Regions from separate parts of the Homo sapiens genome. Here region 2 is linked to region 1. Evidence: fine-mapped expression QTL. A gene starts in region 1. The other region holds a variant in brackets. All regions are shown on one strand. Distances are from middle to middle. Region 1 holds the start of GABRQ (gamma-aminobutyric acid type A receptor subunit theta). Region 2 overlaps FATE1 (fetal and adult testis expressed 1).

What was found. PIP is the estimated chance that this variant, and not a neighbour inherited with it, causes the effect. A credible set is the group of variants that fine-mapping cannot tell apart.
Region 2: its variant is the best candidate, but not a certain one, in a credible set for the expression of GABRQ in esophagus mucosa (GTEx, PIP 0.51).

The regions. Positions count from the first base shown.
Region 1 is chrX:152,634,650-152,640,015 of GRCh38, reverse strand. It overlaps GABRQ (gamma-aminobutyric acid type A receptor subunit theta), which reads right to left and starts at 2,121. Exons shown (of 9, transcript NM_018558.4): 1 at 1,665-2,121. The coding sequence starts at 1,813. It overlaps MAGEA3-DT (MAGEA3 divergent transcript), which reads left to right. Exons shown (of 5, transcript XR_938525.3): 3 at 222-412; 4 at 4,029-4,134.
Region 2 is chrX:151,721,934-151,727,299 of GRCh38, reverse strand. It overlaps FATE1 (fetal and adult testis expressed 1), which reads right to left. Exons shown (of 5, transcript NM_033085.3): 4 at 5,319-5,366; 5 at 4,106-4,672. The coding sequence ends at 4,541. Among named protein-coding and RNA genes, the nearest start is that of FATE1, 8.6 kb to the right of the region's middle. The variant C/T (reference allele first, on the strand shown) is at 2,959.

The DNA.
Region 1 (5,366 bases):
CCTTCAAGAGCCCCATCTTGCAATCAGCCTCGACGCTGTTTTCTAGGTTGGTGGGGGTCCTCCTGCCAGGGGCACCTGATTGCCCCAGGAAAAGTCATCTTTTGCTCTCAGTGCCCTAGTAAGATGAGCTCAAAGTTTCATTTCCCCTTACCTGGGCTAGGGCTGGGCATTTTTTAGTCACTTTTATGTCAACCTTGTTTCTGCACAACTCTGTTTTCCAGACTTGGCATATGGCATAAGACACACAGAGAGAGCCTTGCTGGTGTAGCTGAGATTTACGACCCTCATCCAACCAAACCATTTCAGATTCTTGGGGCTCAGAGCTCTCATCGGAAAGACATCTATTCTGGGAGCAGGTATATCTCTTGCTGAGCATGTGCTTCCACCCTGGAGGTGTCTTGGGTGAGCATAGGTAAGTGGACTCAGCCCAGCTCTGTGGAGAGCTGGCTTTTCCAGAGATCTCTGACACGCTCACCCAATTCACCTAGACCTTCAACAGGGCTCCTTCCCCAACAGGGCTTGCGAATCAGAACAGGCCCCGGCATCACTGTGACTCTTCAAATCTTTGACGCATTGCCCAGGGAACGTCAGCCCCTGCAAATGTGTGTGTTTGTGTGTGTGTGTGTGTGTGTGTGTGCGCACGCGCATGTGTGCATGTTCAGTGGCGCAGTATGGTATGTTGGGTTAAGGGCACTGCAGGGCTGTCTGCTGGAACCTTGCCAAACACCCCCCCCCCCTTTATGAGTACATGTTAATTTCTGGCTTGCCATTTAAACATTGTTAAAAATTATTCCTAATCATCTTTAATCAAAAATTTCATTTTGCAGCATCCCAAAATGTGCACATGAATTATTCCCAAATTAAAGCAATGCATTCCCACCTGTTTCCAAGCACACATTACCCATGTGCCAACGCTCAGGATCTGTGGCCACCCCAAATACACATTTCTGTGTGATTTACATGTAAAGGCTTCAGATACTCGCACACCCAAACAAACTTAAAATCAAAAAGAGAAAAAAACCGGAGTCTTCAAATATTTTCACACGACTAAGTACAAAAGCACACCCATCCCAGACCACACGGTTCGTGTTTATTCAGACACGATCGCACTGTCTGGGCTCCGATGGGTTTGAGTTAATCATTTCTATCTGCCGCATTGGAAAGAGTCCCTCATCCCCTCAACACATGCATGCACGCGCGCGCGCCTCAGGAAATGGACTAAAATGTAGACTCAAACAGGTGTCTCTCCTGTCTATGTTTTGTGAATTGCCCGTCATCCTGTACCCTCCTCCCCAATCCCACAGGTGCCAAAGCTGGGGAAAGCTGCCGGGAACCTTAAATCCTTGGGGATGGATGGACAGATCCTGGGACGAGGGCGACCCCCGCCCCCACCCCTCGGGCTGCGGTTTAGGCACACGCAGGGCTCAGTCAAGCTCCGCAGTAACAGGTGGGCGGAAGCACAGGGCTCCATTTCAACACCCCACTCCCACCTTACCCCTTCTAGGGGCCAACAGGCAGGGCCCGGGCGCCAGGGCTCAGCGAGCCCGGGTCCGAGTACCCCCCAGCCCGAGTCGCCCCCAGCCCGCTCCGTCCAAGAGGCCAGAGGTCGTCTGCCCGTCTCCATTCCCGTCCCCGCCGTGCCTAGCCTGGCGGTGCCCGCTTACCAGTTGAAGAGGTTCAGGACGACTTCGGGCACAGCAGAGGAGAACTCGAAGTGGAATTTCGGGATGGGACTGGGGTAGTTGCCCTCCGCGAGCCAGGTCCTGATGAGCAGCAGGATCACTGCGGCTCGCAGCATGCCTCGGATGCCCATGGCCGGGGCGTTCTGGGCGCCTGAGGGCGCGGGAGACGGGGCCGCGAAAAGGAACAGAGGTGGGGTGGGAGAGTGGGTGACTACTGGGGCCGGGGAAGGCGGGATTGCTGGCCCTTCCCCAAAGAGTCGCCTCTAAGGAGAGAGCAGCGAGGGCAAGGGAAGTAGGGGGTGCGGGGGTCGGCCCGGATACCGGAGATGAGAGCCCGGGAGGAGCAACCACCCAGCAGCTCTGCTGGACGCAGCTCCCCCCAGGGCCCGCCCGGCAGCTGCGAGGTGCGCTCCGTCTGCGGCCGCTCCTGGCTGCGACTGGGCACAGATCCCAGCTCGCTGCTGGCTCCGCCCACTCCGACGGCATCGCAGGCCCAGCCAATCGGACAGCTGCCAGGAGCCGCACAAAAAGGCGCGCGCTCCTGCCTCCGCCCGTAGCCTGCGCGCCGCCCGGCCCCCGCCCCTTCAGGCTTCTGCAGTCATCCCCCGGCCATCTCCAGACACAGGCAGGGCGGGGCCGGGCTGGGGGAGGGGGAGGAGGGCTGGCTCCTTGGGGGCTGGGCCAGGAATCCGCCTCAAGGGGCACTGGGTCCTGTCTCTTCTCTGCAAAATGCGAAATGTGTGTTTTTCTTGGAAGAAAGGGCCTGTGCCCGAGAGTTGTATTTGATGGTGAAGGGAGTGTGGTAATTTGACCGCCATGGCTGAATCTGCATTCTGAAAGACTTGGACAATTTTGGGCGTCAGGAGGTACCCAACGGCTGGTGACTCCGTACCCTTGAGCCTCCAGTAACCCCGCGTGCCTTGTCTCTGGATAAGGTCAAGGAGGATCCTAATGGGTTTTGTTACAGGGCTCTGGCCACAGCAGGACTGCTCCTCCCTCAGGATGGACATTGGGCTACAGGAGCCCAAGAGTTGCTTAAGACTTAAATTTCCTAGAGTGCTCTTCACCCCAACTTTGGGTACTCAGGAAAAAGACTCAAGGAACTGGAAGGGCTCACCAACTGGGGTCTCTCTGAGATGTGGTTGTGTCTCATCAGCCAGGGGATGCAGAATGAAGGTTCATGGCTGACACCATAGAAGGGGAAAAAAAGGCCAAGGTCAGTGTTTGGGGTGTTCAAGGGAGTTAGGCACTGGAGACCAGGGTATGCCAATGTTCCTGGGTTCTGACCCCATCATATGGAAAAGCCTGACATCTTGACTAGAGGGCTCTTATTCTTTCCACTACCTCAGACTCTGCCCCTATGGGACAGAAAAATCGTGGAGGATAAGAAATGCCTCCACCCAATTTCCTATGTCCTTCCTATCCCATGACAAAGCAAGTTCAGAAAGCTTAGAAAGTGGCCTCACCAGAGCCCATAGGGCAAATGGGTAATCAACAAACAGAGCTGCCATGTTCACCGGCATGCCACCTCCCACATCACACCATTGAGAAGAGTTGAAATCAAAACGGATTTCAGGTTTACTTTTGGTTACCTAGAACATTCACTGAGAAACACAACATCTCCCCCTTTTTTTCCCCTCAGTATTTGATGAAATGAGTTGAGATTGCTGGTGCCCAGCAAAGCATGACTTACCTGGTAGGCCAAGCAGTTTTGCACAGCTGAGGGTTTAACTCTTTTACCACTCCCCCTTTAAAATCATTTTAGAACCATACTTTTATGAAAAATGTCTCTCATAGTTTCCTGCCTTCTTTTAATGAGCAGAACACCCTCACACCTTTCTTTCCCATCTCCCCTCTTTCCCTGGCCATTGCAGTAAGAAAAAAGGATGATGGGACCCATTTGTCAGGATCACATATGAGAGCAGATTAAACCCACCTCTACTGCTACCAGTCCTGTCCCATCACCTCTGGTCACACAGACGTCCTTGTAGAGAAAATCCTTGTTTGCCAAAAATGTTAGAGCCATTCCGGGGCATTTTGTCCAGCCACCTCGGTTGTAATGTAGGGAAACTGAAGCCCAGAGAAGAAAAAGGGATTGGCCCAAGGTCACACAGTAGCAGAGGCCAAAACTAAAAACCACATTTCCAGGTCTGCTTACTTCGAGAAGAGTGCGTTTTCAGTCTAAGTCAGCTTTGACTGGAAGTTCTAGCAACCACCAGCAGGTGGGAGCAGATTTGTTTGAATGTGGGATGTTCCCAGCACTGAGGAATCAAATTCCACAGGCAATTGGTCTGGTCGCTCATTTGTTAGGGGAAACAAGCCTGAAGCCTGAAATTTTGTTCTTAGGTACCCTTGTGACTATGAAGATTGACAAAAAGTTGACGGCAACGATGAATTCTCTTCCAGAACTTACATCCCAGAAGGCCCTCCCCTACTTCGGGTCTCCCTAGAGGTAATGCTTCATTGAAATTTCTGACTCACAAGAAAAGGATAGCCAAAATACAAGAAATACAAAAATGCCATTATAATTTGTACTTATTGAGCGTTTGCCTAGTTAATTTATTATAATATCCATAAAGATCTAGATTGAATAAGCTTAAACCTGAATATGGGATAATGGTGTAGGACAAAGAACACTCATCTGGAAGTTAGCCCATCTGTGTTCTGACCCAGCTCTGCACACGACAGTGAATATTCCAGTTTGGCTAAAGGGTAGAGTAAGTTTGGAGGTAAGACAACAGGTGAGATAGGTAAGAGGTGAGAGATTAGGCAGAACCTGACTTTGTAAGCAACACACACTCAGTGTACAATAAATTCTTGTGTAATGAATGAGGCAAGAGAAAGAATCTGGGTCCTAATTTTCTAAAATAAAAAATTGTATTTTATTTTAGAGTCAACAGTAATCTTCTGAAGGATTTGTGCAAGGGAATGATACAATCAGAGTGGCACCTTCGCACTGAAGGAAAAACTGGGAGGGAGAGGGACTGGGGGCAAGAAGAGCACACATCTCCTTCTGGTAATGGCCAGCTAGGTAACTTGGACTAGCTGTTCCAGTGAGGACAATGAAACAAACTGGCTGAATGTAGAAAGAAATAATTGTCATAAAGAACTGAGAGATACTGAGGCTAAAATCCGGAAGAAGACAAGAACCCAGGGGGGAAAGCCCAGCACTAGAATCCTCTTTTGTCCTGATGGCTTCTACTGAATCTGGAAGAGAGTTATGAAATTGAGCTGCAGTTTTGGTGGCATCATAAGGAAAAAAGTGAAAGCTCAAGGCCCAAGGAAGTAGCGGATTTGATTAGCATTCTTGTCACTCTCAGCTGAGACCCTGAGTGGCTACCCCTTTGGGTTAATGGTGACCTATAAGTAACCAGCCCTTGTGTGGTCTTGTAAACCTAGATACTCATCATATGGGCAGTCCAAGGAACCTAAAGCCCTGATCTTGGATTAAAGTGGCCTTGGACAAGTAGTATCCTCAGGCATTTGAAAATACCCCAGCAAATGAAAAGACTCTGCTGGAAGGTATTATCATATTGGGCCTAGAATCATTTGTACAATAATTTTTCAAAAATATGTCAGCGTATAGTCAAAGATAACTTGGCATAAAAGGAAACACATAGACCATGACAGCCAGTAGACAACAAAAACAAACTCTCAAAGACTTCACGTATCAGAGTTACGTGA
Region 2 (5,366 bases), 910 kb after region 1:
CCCACGCACTTTTCACGGACTCCAGTTCTGTACCCCCATGGAGGTAACTGGCCTGTGGTCACAGAAAGGTATCAGCCCAAGGTCAGCCGCTTTCCTCACCAATCAGATGGCTTCAGAGGCAGGGGCTCTCCTGGCCAGTCAGCATCCGTTGGTCCTTCTGCACAACCTCCAGTCAGAGACAAACCACTGGGGGCTCATCGGCATCTGGAGCTAACAGAGATCTCCTGCCATTCCTGCCCCTCAGGCCAGCGGGGCCCTTGAGCCCCTGACAACTTAGCTGCAGCCTCGGGGTCAGAGAGCTGCCCCACCCTGCCTGAGGCCAACAGGAGAAGCTGGCAGAGGCCAAGAAGAGCTCATGCTCATGGCTAAGGCAAACTCAAGACGCTGCCCCAGGGTGTCACCTGCCCAATGGAGAAGCTGGCCTGTCTGTGGGCACTGTACACCCCAGGCTGTTGGCAGGCGAGGGCTGGGTGCTGGGCTGCCTGGCTGTAGAAGCTGCTTGCCTGCCCAGATCCAGAAGCCAGCCCCTCCCAAGCTCCCTGAGGAGCCCTGCCTTGCACGGAGCATGCTCAGAGCTATGTGTCTGGGGATTCAACCCCACCAGCTCACAGCCCTGGTGTACTTGCCTCCAGACCTTGGCACAATCTCAACCAGTCCACCTGATCTGAGGTCAAGCCAGGGAGAAATCTGAGAGAAGAGGTACCTGGGGTAGGGCTGGCCTGAGGGGAAAATCCATACCTTCTCTGCCAGGTCCCCTGGACTTGGCCTCCAAGAAGGGTTGGGGTTAGGGAAGGGAAACAAGGCAAGACCCTTGGGGCAGTGAGCTTTGGGCTCCTTTCCAAGAAGCCAGGATTTCAGGCTGCTCCTGGGTACACCAGAGTCCCCTCCATGCACCCTCATGTACCCCTCCTCACATGCCCACCTTCCTCTTCCCACCTTCCACCAGCTGCCAGGAAGCCAGCCTGTGACAAAAGAACTGGAATATTGAGTTTCAGCTTTTGACCAGGACTGGCGGGGGACCAGGGGCCCACTTGGCAGGGCAGAGAACTACATAAATGGAGGATTAAAGCTTTGCCCACCTGCGCAGCCAGCTGGGAAGACAAGCCACTCCCTCAGGGGGCTGCTAGGAGGGGCTTAAATGACATCCTGCGTGCAAAGCCTGGGATACATACAGGTGCGCATAATCTGCATGGAACAGCATAGAGAGTTCGCAAGGATACGCACCAACCAAACCATGGGAAATAATTCAGTGGAGGGACTTGGCATTTGGGGTGCAAGGGACTGTGTTAGCTAGGCCTGCAATGTTTGCCTTTTTGGGGAGAATGTGTTCATGCACAACTTGCGTAATTAAATATTTTTAAGATGCAAAGTGCATGGCACAGAGTAGGTGTGCCGTAGGAAGCGAAGAATAGAATTGGCTCCCTTTGGTGGGGAAAGGTTTTCAACAGAAGGCATACCCTAAAGGCCAGGAGGGGAAGACCAGGGCTAGATTCAATCTCTGGGGACCCTAATCAGAGGCCATCCTGCCAGTCCTTTACTTGTTCCAGGAGTGCAGAAGACAATGCAGGCTACCTTGTGCCCTCAAGAAGCTACTGATCCAGTGGAGGACTGATGTGTACCCCTCTAATACTAAGCCTGGGCAGCCCCTGGGAAGCTTCAAAGACTAGAGAAAAACAGCACGCCAGGAGAATCCCCTCCCCCACCCCCAAGTAAGAATGAGTTCCTTCCCTCCTTCATTCACCCACAGCATCCTGCTTCACCATGGGGAAGTTCATGGCTTGCTGGAGGAAGGGCTGGGCTCAGGGTGGAGAGGTTGGGCAAGGCAAGGACAGTTTGGCAGAGAAATGCAATCAGATGGGCAAATGCTCTAGGTGGGTCAGAGCCAGAGGGCCAGGCAGGAGGTGCCAACTTGCCTCCTGGCACTCTGCCCCCGAGCCTCCCTGGATCTCCCAGAGGCTTGGGAATCACAGATGTGCCAGCCCCCACAATATGGTCCCCATGCCCCTTAAGGAACATTGCAGAGGGGCCCAGACTGGGCAGCTCTGACTCCAGTTCCTCTCAGGAGCTTCCTGAGGTCTTCTAGGTGGGGCAGGGAGTTCTAGAGATAGAGCAGGAATGCCCTTCTAGGAACTGGCCTCCAGCCCTGCTGGGAACCAGCCAAATGGTCACACAGAAAGGCAGGGTGGAGGCCCAGCCACGGGCTCCTTATGAGCCCACCTGGCTCAGGAGACGTTCCTCTAGGGCACTGCCGTGCTGTTTGTTTGCAACTCAACTAAATTGCTCCCAAGGGTGAACCTTTGTTTCACAACATATTTTCAGCCAGACTTTTTCTGCAAACATGTCCATGTCTGTGCAGGCTCACAAACACTCAGGTCCCAAAGGGCAGACCCAGCCCTTCCCAGCTGCAGCCTCCTCTTCCTCTGAGCTTCCCTGTGGGGCCTGACTGGGGCCGGAGAAAGGGGCAGCCCGGGGTAGACAGTGTGAAGGCTGGACTCATGGCAGTTGGAGCACTGGGCTGATGGCAAGAAGCTGCACGTGCTGCCCCTGCTCCATCTCCCTGCTTCCCTTAATATTCCTCTGTATCTTGGGTCCTGCTCTGTCCTGAAGCTGCAGGAAGGGGAGGGGCGGCCTGCAAGGAGGTCCCCCAGTCTTCCATCTAGCCCATGGGTGACTCCTGGGGCCCCAGGCCCCATTTGCAGAGGACAGGGAACACCCCTGGTACTCCCTGGCCCTCTTGGCTCTCCTGGCCAGAAGTACTCATATCTGGGTGCTGCTGTTTCCCCATTCTGCAGAGGGGCTTCCTGTGGCACTTGATTACCTCTGTGCTCTGGGACCAGAGAGAGAATCTTTCTCTCTGGTGTTTCTTTCCTAGGTGTCCTTTTCTCTGCTTTGAGCAGGGCCCAGGCTCCAGGGGCCACGTGCCTCGTGTCCCACAGGGCTGACAGGAGGCCCTGCATC[C/T]TCATCTTAGAAGTATTGCAAGCCCTAGAGTGTCAGGCGTGGAAGAACCCCCTCATTGTATAGGAGCCCACTGAGGACCAGAGAGAAAGAGGTGGAGCAGGGACAGAGCAGGCTCTGGGACTCAAGCTTCTCTCTCTCTCTCTCTCTACTCTAACTTCCCTCCCTCTGCCGCTCTGTATCGCTGACTGTATCTCTCTCTCTGCCTCTCCCTTCCTCCATCCTTTCTTCTCTCCTCGCCTCCCCTCCTCTCCCTGTCTCTTCTCTGTCTCTCTCTCTCACATACACAGACACACACGTTCATTTCATACCTAGGGACTAACACGCTTCCCAGTCTTTACAGATGGAGAATCCTTGACAGATTTGGGGGATTAGGGAAGGTGCACTTAGCAACTAAAGCCAATGAGAAAGTTCTGGGTCAGAGACATGTGTGTTGAGCCCTTGGTCCCAGGGAAAGGGGTTGCAGCTCCTCTGCAGGCCTCCTGCACCAGGCACATCTGCACTGTGGTCAGGCCCCCACATGGCAGGCAACATTCTCCACCTCTCAGGCTCAGCCCCACTGGACAGCCCAGCTATTCACCCTGTCTGAGGTGTGCTTCATGGGCTGTGGACCCAGAGTGTGTGGTGGGTAGGGTGAGGGGTATGTGTAGCTCCCGTTCAGCCTCCAGAGCTGAGGCAGGACCTCATCTCCAGTGAGTCTGTCTGCAGGAGGCAGGCCAAGCCCTAGCGTAGGACTCAGGAGAACTCACGCCAGAGAACTCACATCCAGGCCCTGTCTCACTGGATGACCCAGGGACATGTTTCCTCTCTCTGGAATTCAATTTCCTCTTGCGCAAATGAGGTTTCTGGTCCCTTTCAGGAGATTTCCTCTGATTGCTTCCCTGCAACACAGCGCAGACATGCTCCCAGAACCACACCCCCACAAGCACTGGTTTGCATGAGCCCAACAGGAAGAACTTTGCAAAGCTGGGGCTGGGGACAGGGAGGTGGGGGAGGTGAAAGGGAGGAGGGAACCAGGGCCCCTGGGGCAATGGCAGAGGCTCAGTCCCAGCCACAAGGTCTCTGTGAAGAGGAGCTGTTGTTTCCCAGCGCACCCCACCTCCACTGTTGCCCCCAGTGAGTGCTGGACACAGGAACCTCAGCCACAGGGTTTTGCTGCTATGGCTGAACTTTTATTGAGCGTGTTGTCTGTGCAGAGCGCTGTGCACGAGGTGGAAGCAAACGAGGGAGGAAAACAAAGCCACACCCCTGCCCACAGAGGATGGAACAGAAGGGCCGCTGAGGTCAGGAAGGCAAGGTTGCCACTAGGTGTTACTGTGGGGCCCAGATGCCGCCATGCTGTTCACCCTTCAAAGGGTGGCATCTCAGCCCACGCAGTCCTCCTCCAGCTTCGCAGCAGCCAGGACCTCCCAGTGCAGTGACCTGGCCTCCCCAGGTAGGAGGCCTAACCAGAGTTGAAAATGATCCTGACGCTCCTGAGGGCTGCTGGGAGATGAAAGGGGCAAGGGCAGTGGCGGCCTGGGGAAAGAGGAAAGAAAGAAGGGGAAGCAGGGAGGGCTCCAATACGGAGGCCGCGCTGGGGCGATCACTGGTTCATCCACAGCCACAGGTTGGCAATGCTGGCCGACACCAGCACGGCGATGATCAGGGTCTCCCTGTGGCGCCAGGTGGCGCCCTGTTCCTCCAGGGCGCGCAGACGCCGGTTGACTGCATACAGCTGCAGAGGAGTCAAAGGCAGGGCTGCTGAGCGAGGCTCTTCTCCAGAAGCCCACAGCACAGCCATGGGAAAAGCATAAAGTTAGAGCAAGAAGGGGCTTGATTGCCCTTTGGCGGTGGAGCGGGGAGCGCCCCTAGTGAGAAGCAGGAGGCTGGGCCAGGTCCGCGGGACCAAAGACCTGGCTGCTACGTCTGCAGGCCCCACTTTTGCCTTCTCCCTTATGTTCACTTCCCTTCTCTGGAAGAGACCAGCCCATTCCAGCTGCGCCGGGGAGCCAAGGAAGAAAGGATCTCCTCCTAAGAAGGTCTGGGTTTGGTTTGAACAAAGGCGACCCCTCTCTCAGACCCTTAGGTATCACTCTCTCTCTGGACATAGAACCCTTATCCTTGTATGTTCCCTCTTCCTCCACCTTTTATCTGCCCCTATTCCCTACCAGCATCTCAGGGACAGCAGTGAGTTTGAGGCTGGACATCTATGCGGGGTGTCAGAGCCATGGGGATGAGGAGGAAGAGGAAGGGAATCTGCCCCACCTCCAGCGCTAAAGGGAAAGATGACTGTAAGGGACTACAGGACCCCAGCTGTCGAGCCCTGCCTATTCCAAGGCACTGTGATTCTGCTTGCACCCACCGATTGGGTCCCTCCTCACCTGTCTTCTCATGACTTCCATCTCCAGTACATTGAACTCTTCCAGGCT